Regions from separate parts of the Homo sapiens genome. Here region 1 is linked to region 2. Evidence: fine-mapped expression QTL. A gene starts in region 2. The other region holds a variant in brackets. All regions are shown on one strand. Distances are between the middles of the regions. Region 1 overlaps MGAM (maltase-glucoamylase). Region 2 holds the start of MGAM (maltase-glucoamylase).

Region 1 (5,314 bases), 110 kb after region 2:
AAGCCTGAAACAAAAGTTTTCTTTCAGTTTTGCATTCTTTACAGTTATTTCCTCATACTTGTGGTTTTCTTGTCAACAACTTCCCCAACTATACCATAAAGGACTTTGCCCAATCCTGTTGCTGACCAGCTCAGGGACAGACATGCAAGCTGATGAGGGCACATGCAGTGAAAGCTTCTTGACAGCATCTGCCTAGGAAGAAGCAGGAATAGTGGACTCTTGCTGGGCAAACACTGGGGTGCTATAGTGGAATAGGAGAAGGAGGAAACAGAAGGATGGTGCCAAGGAAAATCAACACCTCAGTAGAATGGAAAAGAGGGCATTCTCTCCAGTTTGTGCAGTTGTTTCTCTTCAGCGGTTGCATATTGAACATTTTTTTTTTTTTTGACTGAGTCTCACTCTGTTGCCTAGGCTGAAGTACACTGGTGCAATCTTAGCTCACTGCAGTCTCCGCCTCCCAAGTTCAAGTGATTCTCCTGGCTTAGCCTCCCTAGTAGCTGGGATTACAGGCACCTGCCACCACGCCTGGCTAATTTTTGTATTTTTATTAGAGCTGGGGTTTCACCATGTTGGCCAGGCTGGTCTCAAACTCCTGACCTCAAATGATCCACCCACCTGGGCCTCCCGGAGTGTTGGGATTACCGGCGTGAGCCACCGCACCCGGCCCATATTGAATTATTTAAAGGCCCATCTCTACCACTGAATAATCTTTGTACTCTAAAAAATTAGAAAACACCCTTCTCATCTGAAACTTTGAAGGCAGTCTTTTAACTAGACAATACAATGTAGAAGTATTAGGGGGTTATTTGGACTGGATACTTGCACCTGATTTATTTGCATGCAGGAAATTTCAACACCGGATGCCCAATTCTTTTCCTTTGGTTCCTAACAGGTATTAAGCATCGATGTGACTGACAGAAACATCAGCCTACATAATTTTACTTCATTGACGTGGATAAGCACTCTGTGAATTTTTACAGCAAGATTCTAACTAACTATGAATGACTTTGAAACTACTTATACTTCATACTCATAAAAATTATTGTGTGTTGCTAATTTGTTCATACCCACTATTGGTGAAATATTTCTGTTAATTTTGTTATATGTTTTTTGTGTGAACCCTAAAGGTTAAACCTTAGCCCTGTGGGATAGGCAGTTAGGGAGGTGTGGAAAATCTATGCATTACCTTAATGTCTCTGTGTGGTTAGTATGGTAGTGACTGTTCATCATATGACATTTACTGAAGATGAACTGGGTCCATGATGAAGTGTGTGTATGTCCACGTTTGTAATCATAGAATGGACCCCATTCTTTTGTTAAATACACAAGAGAAAGCTTTCTGTGACAGTTCCAGGTCTTGAAGCTAATCAGCATCTCAAGAAAGTATCCAGAAAGAACATCTGCTAGTTGGTTATAGGCGGTGGGAGGAATAATATACCTAATTGGTTATAGGTGGGGGGAGCATGATAAGCAAAGAAAAGGCAAACACAAGGAAAGATCAGATGAAACAGAAGATGATAGTAAAAGTGATCCTAAGTAAGAACATAATGTAAAATTGTCAGCAGCCTCATGGGGAGGAAAAAGGAAGAGTCAACTCACTTGAAGAAGAGGGTCTTGAGAAATCCTTAGCATAAAGGGCTACTGGTGAGATTGAGATCTGAGCAGGCAAAGCTCAAAAGAGAGTTTGGAGGTTAAAAATAATTTATTTTTGCAGTAGTGTGCTTTGAAATGTGTAAATCTTATTTCTAATGTATACAACCACATTTCACATAAAAATATGCAATTTATATGCCAGATAAAAATAAAACAAGTGAATTTGCAAGTGATTTTGAATTTTGTGCTATTTTGACCATGAGTAATCTCTGTTTGGGGTTAAGGTTCTTGTTTAGCAAACTCTTATGAATTTGTCTTTCTGGTTCTCTTCGGCATCACAGAACCTACAGCCAAATCCACCAATAGGATGATAACCTTTATAATTATCCTTTTTCTTACATCTCTGCAAGGAGTCTTTTATAAGATGTGGGTTTGTGGAAGGGTCTATTGATTACTATTTTAATCATCATAGCAGTTGCTATATTTAGGAAAATACCAACTCCAGTAAAAATAGGAGTTGCAACCTTCTTGCTTAAAATTCTATAGGGTTAAAATGTGAGATAAGGAAATTATATATTAATGTTCAACAGGAATATTAACTTTTGATGTTACCTGAAAATGAGTTGAAAATGAATGTGTGTGGAATGAATGAACCTACTTCTCTGTGTTTTCTTCTTTTCTTATAACCAGGAAGCCATTCATTCTCCCTGCACACTCATGTGTCAGCACCTGCATAAGGCTAGAGACAAACAATATTGTTAAATCATCTAATTATCACAATACGGGGCATTTGGATGAGGGCCTGAGCTAACTAGGAAACTGGTGAAATATGGAAAAGCAGCCATGGGAATCCTTTGATCAAAAAGGTGGGAAACTTGTCAGCTTTCCTCTAACAAACTCAGGAAGGCCACAAAGATGAAAACGTTATTTACTTGATATTTAAAAAATATTTAATGTTACCATCAAGGATATGTTGGTGGAATTTGGCTCTGGCTGCCACAGAATGCTTAAGGAGAGGCATTCTGACTATATAATTCTGATGGCTAAGGCCCTAGTGAGGCCAGTGGG[GT/G]TTTGGAGCACACGAAGTGTCAGGGACCCCACTGACAGCCTAGTGAAACCTACGGAATTCTTCCTCACAACATTGTTTTTAAATGCATCAAGCAAAATGCATGCTATTTCAAAGAAAACTTATCATATTACGATACACTTATCCAAATATTAAAGATGATATAGTAACCCATGAGATGTGTTTTTTTCATTATCAAATTAAATGAAAAGATCCAACAGTGGAAGTAACAATGCTATAATTTCAATGTAATGATCAACATCAACAATATTTTGAGATATCCACTACAATTTCATAATGTAATATGGAAAGATCTGTGATTGCATTATTGACAAACTCATGTGCTATGAAAACTACTGTGTTTTGTTGTCTACATTCATAACCTAACAAAATGCTAAATTTCAGCCAGAAATGTGTGAAAAAGAGATTATCTGTTGGAACCAATATGGCTTACCGGAGTTAACGCAGAAAGAGCTTGCTGACGTCACAGCCTGAATTTCCACCACAGGTTCTTACTAACTCCCTCCCAAATTTGCACATGAGACCCATGATGAGGCATGAAGAGATAACTGTGCATGCCTGAGGACTTTCTAGATTTCCTCTTTCTTTTACCAATCACCTGCTAATCCCAGAATCCACCCCCTAAGTCTTTTCTGATAAAAATACTTCCTTAAAGCCAGCACAGGAAGACAGGTTTGAGCTGGACTCCTGTGTCCTGTGAGTCGACTTTGCAATAAAAGCTTTTCTTCGAAACCCTTTATCAGAGTATTGGCTTCTAGCGCATCGAAGAGTGAGCCCTTTCGCTCAATAATACCCCCAGAGGTTGTTCCTCAGATCACAGTCTGAGAACCACCTCTCATGGAACCATATCCATTTGTGGCCATCCCAGAGCAGCCCCTACAACATGGACCTATGCTTACAACTCCTGGCCAGCTATTCAGGAAGAGGCTGGGGGCCTTCCTTTTCCACATATGCTCTGTTTTTTAGATCACATAATTTTGCTTTCTTCATAGGTGTGCCAAAATAAAAAAAAAAACACTCTCAAACTCTTTCACTTAAATAGGAAGACATCTATTCCTTTCTTATTAATGTTATAACATTAAATGTCATATATACCTGCAAAGATAAGGTTATGTTGGCCGTGGCAGATGTCTTCAAGATCTCATCAATATTTCTTTGTTCTTGTCATAGCGGCAGAGTCACTGAGAGTTTTGCATCTGGCCTTGGAGAAAGGTGTTCTGGAAGTTAAGGGTGACTCATATTACTAGTTTCTGATCTGATGATTCCAACCAGCAGCTTGCTGTGACAACTGTTTGAGTTCCGCCAATAGCTAACTTTGCCGTGCCTTGTTACCGATAGACAACTGGAAGATGTCGGGTCACGTGCCTGTCTCTACCCTTCAAAGTGGCTCTGTTATTTTCTCATTGGTCAACACCAGTATGGTGATTCAATATCTTCCAGTTACTAGTTAGCAAGAATGGAAGGTGAAGGTAGCTATTTTCTGCACTTTAGGAAACAGGTTATAGATTAGCTGGGCCTGTTGGTTACCACTATTAACATAAATGAAGTCACAAATGTGCATGGCATGTGGGGAGTTAAAGGTAAAATATCACACAAAAAATAGATCTTATGTAACAATAAAATCTCCCTTCTTGACCTTTTGCCAGGATGTCTTCCCAATTTGAAATGAGATCTTGGTACATTTCCCCTCTAACAAAGGCCACCTTGTACTGGGGCAAATGAAAAGCTGAATATGTCATTCCAGCAGTTCATAAATGCAGAAACCGAGTCTCTCTTTCTCTCTCTCTCTCTCTGTCCCTCCCTCTCTCTCTCTCACTTTCTCTCTCTCTCTCCGTGTGTGTGTGTATGTGTGCTTTTCCACATACTGAGCATTTGAAGCAAACACAAAAGATTCACTACTGTGAACACTGTTATTTACAGTTCTTAGGTGCCACCAAAAGAGCTCTCTGTACCCTCATATATTACTGGCAGGAATGGGGGTGTAAAATGGTGCTGCCACATTAGAAAGCAGTTTTGCAGTTCTTCAAAAAGTTAAAGACTTGTCACATGACCCATGATTCCACTCCTAGGTATATTCCAGGCAGAATTTTAAAACGTGTCAGCTCATAGCAGCATCGTTCATAACAGGCAAAAAGTATCAACAACCTAGATGTATATCAGCTGATACATGCCTAAACAAAATGTGGTCTATCCACGCAGTGGATACTATCCAGACATGGAAAGGAACAGACACTGATACCTGAAATGGTGTGGATGAACTTTGAAAATATCATGCCAAGTAAAAGAAGCCAGACACAGATGGCCACATATTGTATTACTGCATTTATATGAAATGTTCACAATAGGCAAATCCATAAGGACAGAAAGTAGGTTAGTGGCTGCAGAAACAGGGGGAGATGGGAATGGGGAGTGACCACTAATTATTTTTGGGGGTGGCAAAAATGTTCTGGAATTAGATAGTGGTGATAGTTTCAGAATTTTGTAAATATATTTTTAAAAACACTGAATTGTATACTTTAAAAGAGTGAATCTTATGGTTTGGAAATTATATGTCAATTTAAAAATCCACTTTAGCTGGCTTAAGAAAAATTTTAAAAAGATATTGGTGACTCATTGAAACTCCGGTAGGACTAG
Region 2 (5,390 bases):
TGTTACCACGGTGGTTGTTGTTCACTGATGGTTCATGAAATCAGAAAAGTAAGGATAAGGAAGTAAACTTTCAAAGAGATAAATTGATTCAATTTTGATTATCTGTCTATGTCTACTGTGAAACGACTGTGATAAGAGATAGTGATTTTTGTTTGTATTTTCCAGATGATATACATGGTTTATAAATTTAGGTCTCTTGGCCCAGATTTTTTTCTGAATTTTCACTAGCCCATAAAGACAAATGCCTAGAAATAGCAGTAGCTGAGCAGGACTTTTTAAACTATGTGTGGTAAAACAGCAATTGTTTTAAAATTGTCCAATATATCACAGACTGTGGCTTTTGTAAAATTAAAACTAAATTACTTGAAAAATAAATTTTAAAAAAGCATATACAGATACAAGCTCCATTTTTTAATTATCAAGATCAATGACATGAAATGATTCTGTCAAATTGTAATGCAAGTCTCTCAACACTTACCTTCAATTTCTGTGCTTATTTTTCTGGAAGCTGGCAACCACAGGTTCACAGATAACTCTTGGAGTATCACAGAGCGGGGAACTCTGCCCCACTTGGAGGAAGGTCCACTTAGTAACAGAGCAAAGTTCTTAACCTGGGGTTTGTAGATATAATTCTGAAAGCCTGTGAACTTGGAGGGGGAAAATATTTACATATCTTTTCTTTGCTAAATTCTAATTGAAATTTAGAGTTAGGCTGCAAACTACAGTGGTGTTAGTAGTACCTATGAATTTGGTTTCAAGAGAGGTCACAGTTACTTTCACATCATATATTTAAAACAATCTCAAGATATTGTTTACGCTTATCATGTTTTTGAAATTGCAATCGCTATTAGACATATCGCTTTATTGTTAGTATGTCATTAAAGAGGCACAAACTATAATTTAAAAAATATTATAGTAACTGTGTTTCAATGTAATTGATTTTCTTTGTATCTCAGCTCACTACAACCTCCGCCTCCTGGGTTCAAGTGATTCTCTTGCCGCAGCCTCATGAGTAGCTGGGATTACAGGCACGCACCGCCATGCCCGGCTAATTTTCGTACTTTTAGTAGAGACGCGGTTTCACCATGTTGGCCAGGCTGGTCTTGAACTCCTGGCCTCAGGTGATCTGTCCACCTCAGCCTCCCAAAGTGCTGGGATTACAGGCGTGAGCCACTGCACCTGGCCTAAGAATTAATTCTAAGAGGGGTTTATAAGCATGTCTCAGCTCCATAAGTTCTTCTTGCCCACTGCCCTCCAAAAAGATCAATGAGAACAGCAGGCATTGCAGTAAATAAAGAGTTGAATAATCACAGTGTTGGCCAAACAAGAGCAGGCAAAAACTTCTCAATCCCCTCTCCCTCAGGATTCAAAGGCTAAGGTTTGTAAAGGGTACTTTGGTGGGCATGGGGCTGGGGAACTTGTATAATTGATTGGCAGGGAATGAAATCACAGGAGCACCTAAAACTGTCTTTGTGCAACTGAGTCAGTTCCCAGGAGGGGTGTGTGTGTTGGCCTCAAGACTAGGTGGTGTCTGTTGGTCTACTGAAATGCTAACAAATATCTAAAAGACCAGTTATTTAGGTTTCACAATAGTGATTGATATGGTTAGGCTTTGTGTCAGAACCCAAATCTTATCTTGAATTGTAATCCCCATAATCCCCATGTGTCAAGGGAGGGACCAGGTGGGATGTGATTGGATCATGGGGGCGGATCCCCCTATGCTGTTCTCATGATAGTGGGTGAGTTCTCATGAGATCTGATGGTTTTGCAAAGCAGTTTTCCCTGCTCTTGCTCACTCTCTCTGGCCTGCCGCCATGTTAAGAAGTCCCTGCTTCCCCTTCCACCATGATTGTTTCCTGAGGCCTTCCCACCCTTGCGGAACTGAGTCAACGAAACCTCTTTTCTTTATAAATTACCCAGTCTCAGGCATGTCTTTATAGAAGTGTGAAAACAGACCAATACAGTGATGTTATCTTTGGTAGTTGGGGAAGTTATGAATTTTGTGACACTGGTTGTGTGACTGGGGCAGTAAGCAACTTATAGAAAAACAAACTAAGCCATGGCAGGACATTGTTTATGCCTATTCTTTAGCAAAGTCTAAGCCCCTACCATAATTCCAACCTTGCCTTATGAATGCGCCTTTAAGCTCCAGGCAAGGAGGGGGATCATTTTCCCTTGACTCCAAGTTTAACTATAAACTAAATCCCTCTCATAGGTTTCTTGGCCTTTGTACTAGAATAAGCAAAAAGCCAACCAAAAAAAAAAAAAATCCCCTAGAAAACATAATTTAGCCTGGGAGGTTAGAAGCAAGATGGAGTCAGTCTTGTTAGATTTCTCTTATTTATAGTTCTGCAAAGGCAGTTCAAGAGTCACCAGACTGTTAAAGGATTTCCATACTGCAAACAAGCTTAAGGACACCTTAAAGAAGAAAGAAGAAAACTATTTTTAAAACATTTTTAAAACAACTTCCTTCCATCACAATCATCAGATTGTGCTACTAAACGTCAGTGAGTTCCTGAGAGATTCGGAGTCAGTGCAAGAGACCAGGGCTCTTTTGGAATACTGGGGTCATTTATTTTTTGCTCTTTATCATCTACAAATTGTGTCTGTGTTCTCTTACCAGACATACAGGGTGTCCTCACCACCGATTAAACATTCAGTGCCTGGAGGGGATGGAGTGGGTCATGGGAGCTGGCTTTTCCTTCCAAAAGTCTTAAGGATGTCCTTCTTAGAGCAAGACCACGATTACTAATTAACTAAAAATTCTGATCCTGGAAATAAAAGCTGGCCATTCATTTGCATTTGAAAGCCATTAACATTTTCTTGATAGGTCGGTAAATAGTTACCAGATCTTTGGTTGCTTTGGTGGACTGTGCTCCTCTGCTTTTATTGCTAAGCCATCCTTCAGACAGAGAGGGAGCGGCTGCAAGAGGTAATGAGGTATGTTTGTGAACCTTGTATTCTTTTACGGTTACAGATGTGTGTCTACAAGTGTGTGTGAATTTGAGTTGATCTCTTTTAGTCAAAATGCCCTTGTTGGCCGGGTGCAGTGGCTCACACTTGTAATCCCAGCACTTTGGGAGGCCGAGGCGGGTGGATCACGAGATCAGGAGATCGAGACCATGGTGAAACCCCATCTCTACTAAAAAAATACAAAAAATTAGCCGGGCATGGTGGCGGGCGCCTGTAGTCCCAGCTACTCGGAGAGGCTAAGGCAGGAGAATGGCGTGAACCTGGGAGGTAGAGCTTGCAGTGAGCCGAGATCACGCCACTGCACTCCAGCCTGGGTCGTAGAGCGATACTCCGTCTCAAAAAAAAAAAAAAAGCCCTTGTTAATTTGTTAAACACAAAGATAAACAACACCAATAATAAATCAAAAATTATGCACATGCATACACATGGAACAAAATTCTCATTTATCTTTTTTTCTTAGTGTGTGTATATTTTTCTGAACTAAGGCTGGATCTATAAGCCTGATTGTAGTGAAACCTGTGTGTTTGTGTGTGTTTCTGTGTGAGGTGTGATGAATTATTTAATACTTAGGTTGAGGTAGCAGGCAGAAATTCTTTCAGATTCTGGAAATGAAGTGAGAGAAATGAATAAAAGGAGTTAGAATTTGGGAGTGAGATTAGAGCATTTTCCCTCTGAAAGGATTTGGAGTTGTGATTGAGAAAATGTAACTGAAGAACCAATTATAATCAGAAAATTGAGAAATATATCACTATGCTTATGGGTTTGGTGCCTCTGTTGATTAAATACAGAATAATTTTAGGGGATAGTCTGAGGATGTGTGTAAAATATTGGGATGCATTTATGAGTTGGTGTGCATTGGTGGGTAGGAGAGGTTTCCTGTGGAATGTGGGAGGAGGTCATAAAGAGAAAGGTAGGGTATCTGTCCTGGCAGTCATGTGTGGAGTAGAATGGGAGTGCTCGTGGGAAGAGGAGAAGGTGATAAATTGTTGTTGGCCCTTAAACTTAAAAACTTAAAATAAAATACTTAAAATAAACTTAAAATAAAACTTAAAATAAAACTTAAAAAAAGTTGGATCCTTACTAGTTGCCAGTCTAGCTAGACACACGCAGGCATTTCTTTTCTGACTGGTTACAGAGGTGGGAAGGGAGAGTTACTCTTGGGGAAAGAGAGAGAAATTGAGACTAATCCCCATGGGTCTCCCTGAAAAAGGATACCACTAGGTTCTTCATGCAGGATCTGATCAGTGGCTTTGCTGGGCGAGGAAGACCTCCCAATGTCCAAACTGTCTACAGTCTGTGTCCTGGTGTGGGACAGTAAGTGTATGTCTGTAGGTGTGCAAAGAGGGGGTGAGATGGAGGGGGTCTTTGGTTTGTTGTGCTGGTAGGTCCCTGTGCTACCAGGGACCAAATGAAGTGGGACACTAAATTTAAGACAGCTTGTTGCTATTTCAGTCACACTCTCACAAGATGCCAATGATTATTTTTTATTATCAGGCATTCCCTCACAAATACATTTTAATGAGCTAATAAAATTACTATAAAAATTGTTCTATAAGCATGGAATGGAACTAGAAAAGAAATTTTCCATTTAAAATTTGTTCAGGTGGCAGCTGTGGAATGTGATGAGAAATATAAGCCTTTGCACACCCTGTTGCTGGGCTCAAGGAGGAGTTAGCTGTCTCCTAGAGATGATCCTTTTGCAGTTCAGATGGGGAAACTGAGACCCAGAGGGGTTAAGTGGATTTTTCCAAGGTCATACAGCTGGCTAGGGTCAGAGCTGACTCTTAAATCTCTCACCTTGGGTGTGACCAGACTTGGAAGAAAAAAGCCATTCATTAGCTACCTTATCCCTTCCCATTCACCAAGCAGCTGGGAAAGGATGGCCCAACCTACTAATATCGCCCAGCATTTTTGATGAATAGCTATGGCTCACTGGGGTCCTCTTTGCAAGTTGTTCTTAGTCTATCTATCCACAATGAATCCTCTTTTCCACTAGATCTCATGTCTTGTGTTAGCAAAGGATTTTAAAAGAATGGCTTAGACCTCCATATACACATCAAACGCTGGCTATAATGCCGGAAAGAGGACAAATATCCAGTTTTTCCAAATTAATTTAGATAGCCATTTTAATAATTTGGGCCCCCATGTGGTTTGTCTACTTTGCCTAAAGAACTATAATGGTACCAGGACAATGAGCTTTGACAATTATTCATATACTAAATAATTCAAGAAGAAAAAAATTCTATTGCTTTTGCGTAATGTATATATAGTAATAATTCTTTTTTTAAATTTTACTTTAAGTTCTGGAATACATGTGCAGAATGTGCAGGTTCGTTACATGGGTATACATGCGCCATGGTGGTTTGCTGCACCTGTCAACCCATCATCTAGGTTTTAAGCCCCACATGCATTAGGTA

Evidence for each region. PIP is the estimated chance that this variant, and not a neighbour inherited with it, causes the effect.
Region 1: its variant is fine-mapped to the expression of MGAM in neutrophils (BLUEPRINT, PIP 0.95).

Annotation. Positions count from the first base shown.
Region 1 is chr7:142,104,922-142,110,235 of GRCh38, forward strand. MGAM (maltase-glucoamylase) reads left to right here. Exons shown (of 71, transcript NM_001365693.1): 71 at 893-1,826. The coding sequence ends at 970. Among named protein-coding and RNA genes, the nearest start is that of MGAM2, 4.1 kb to the right of the region's middle. The variant GT/G (reference allele first, on the strand shown) is at 2,662.
Region 2 is chr7:141,992,991-141,998,380 of GRCh38, forward strand. MGAM (maltase-glucoamylase) reads left to right here and starts at 2,889. Exons shown (of 71, transcript NM_001365693.1): 1 at 2,889-2,940. RefSeq lists an enhancer at 2,587-3,088.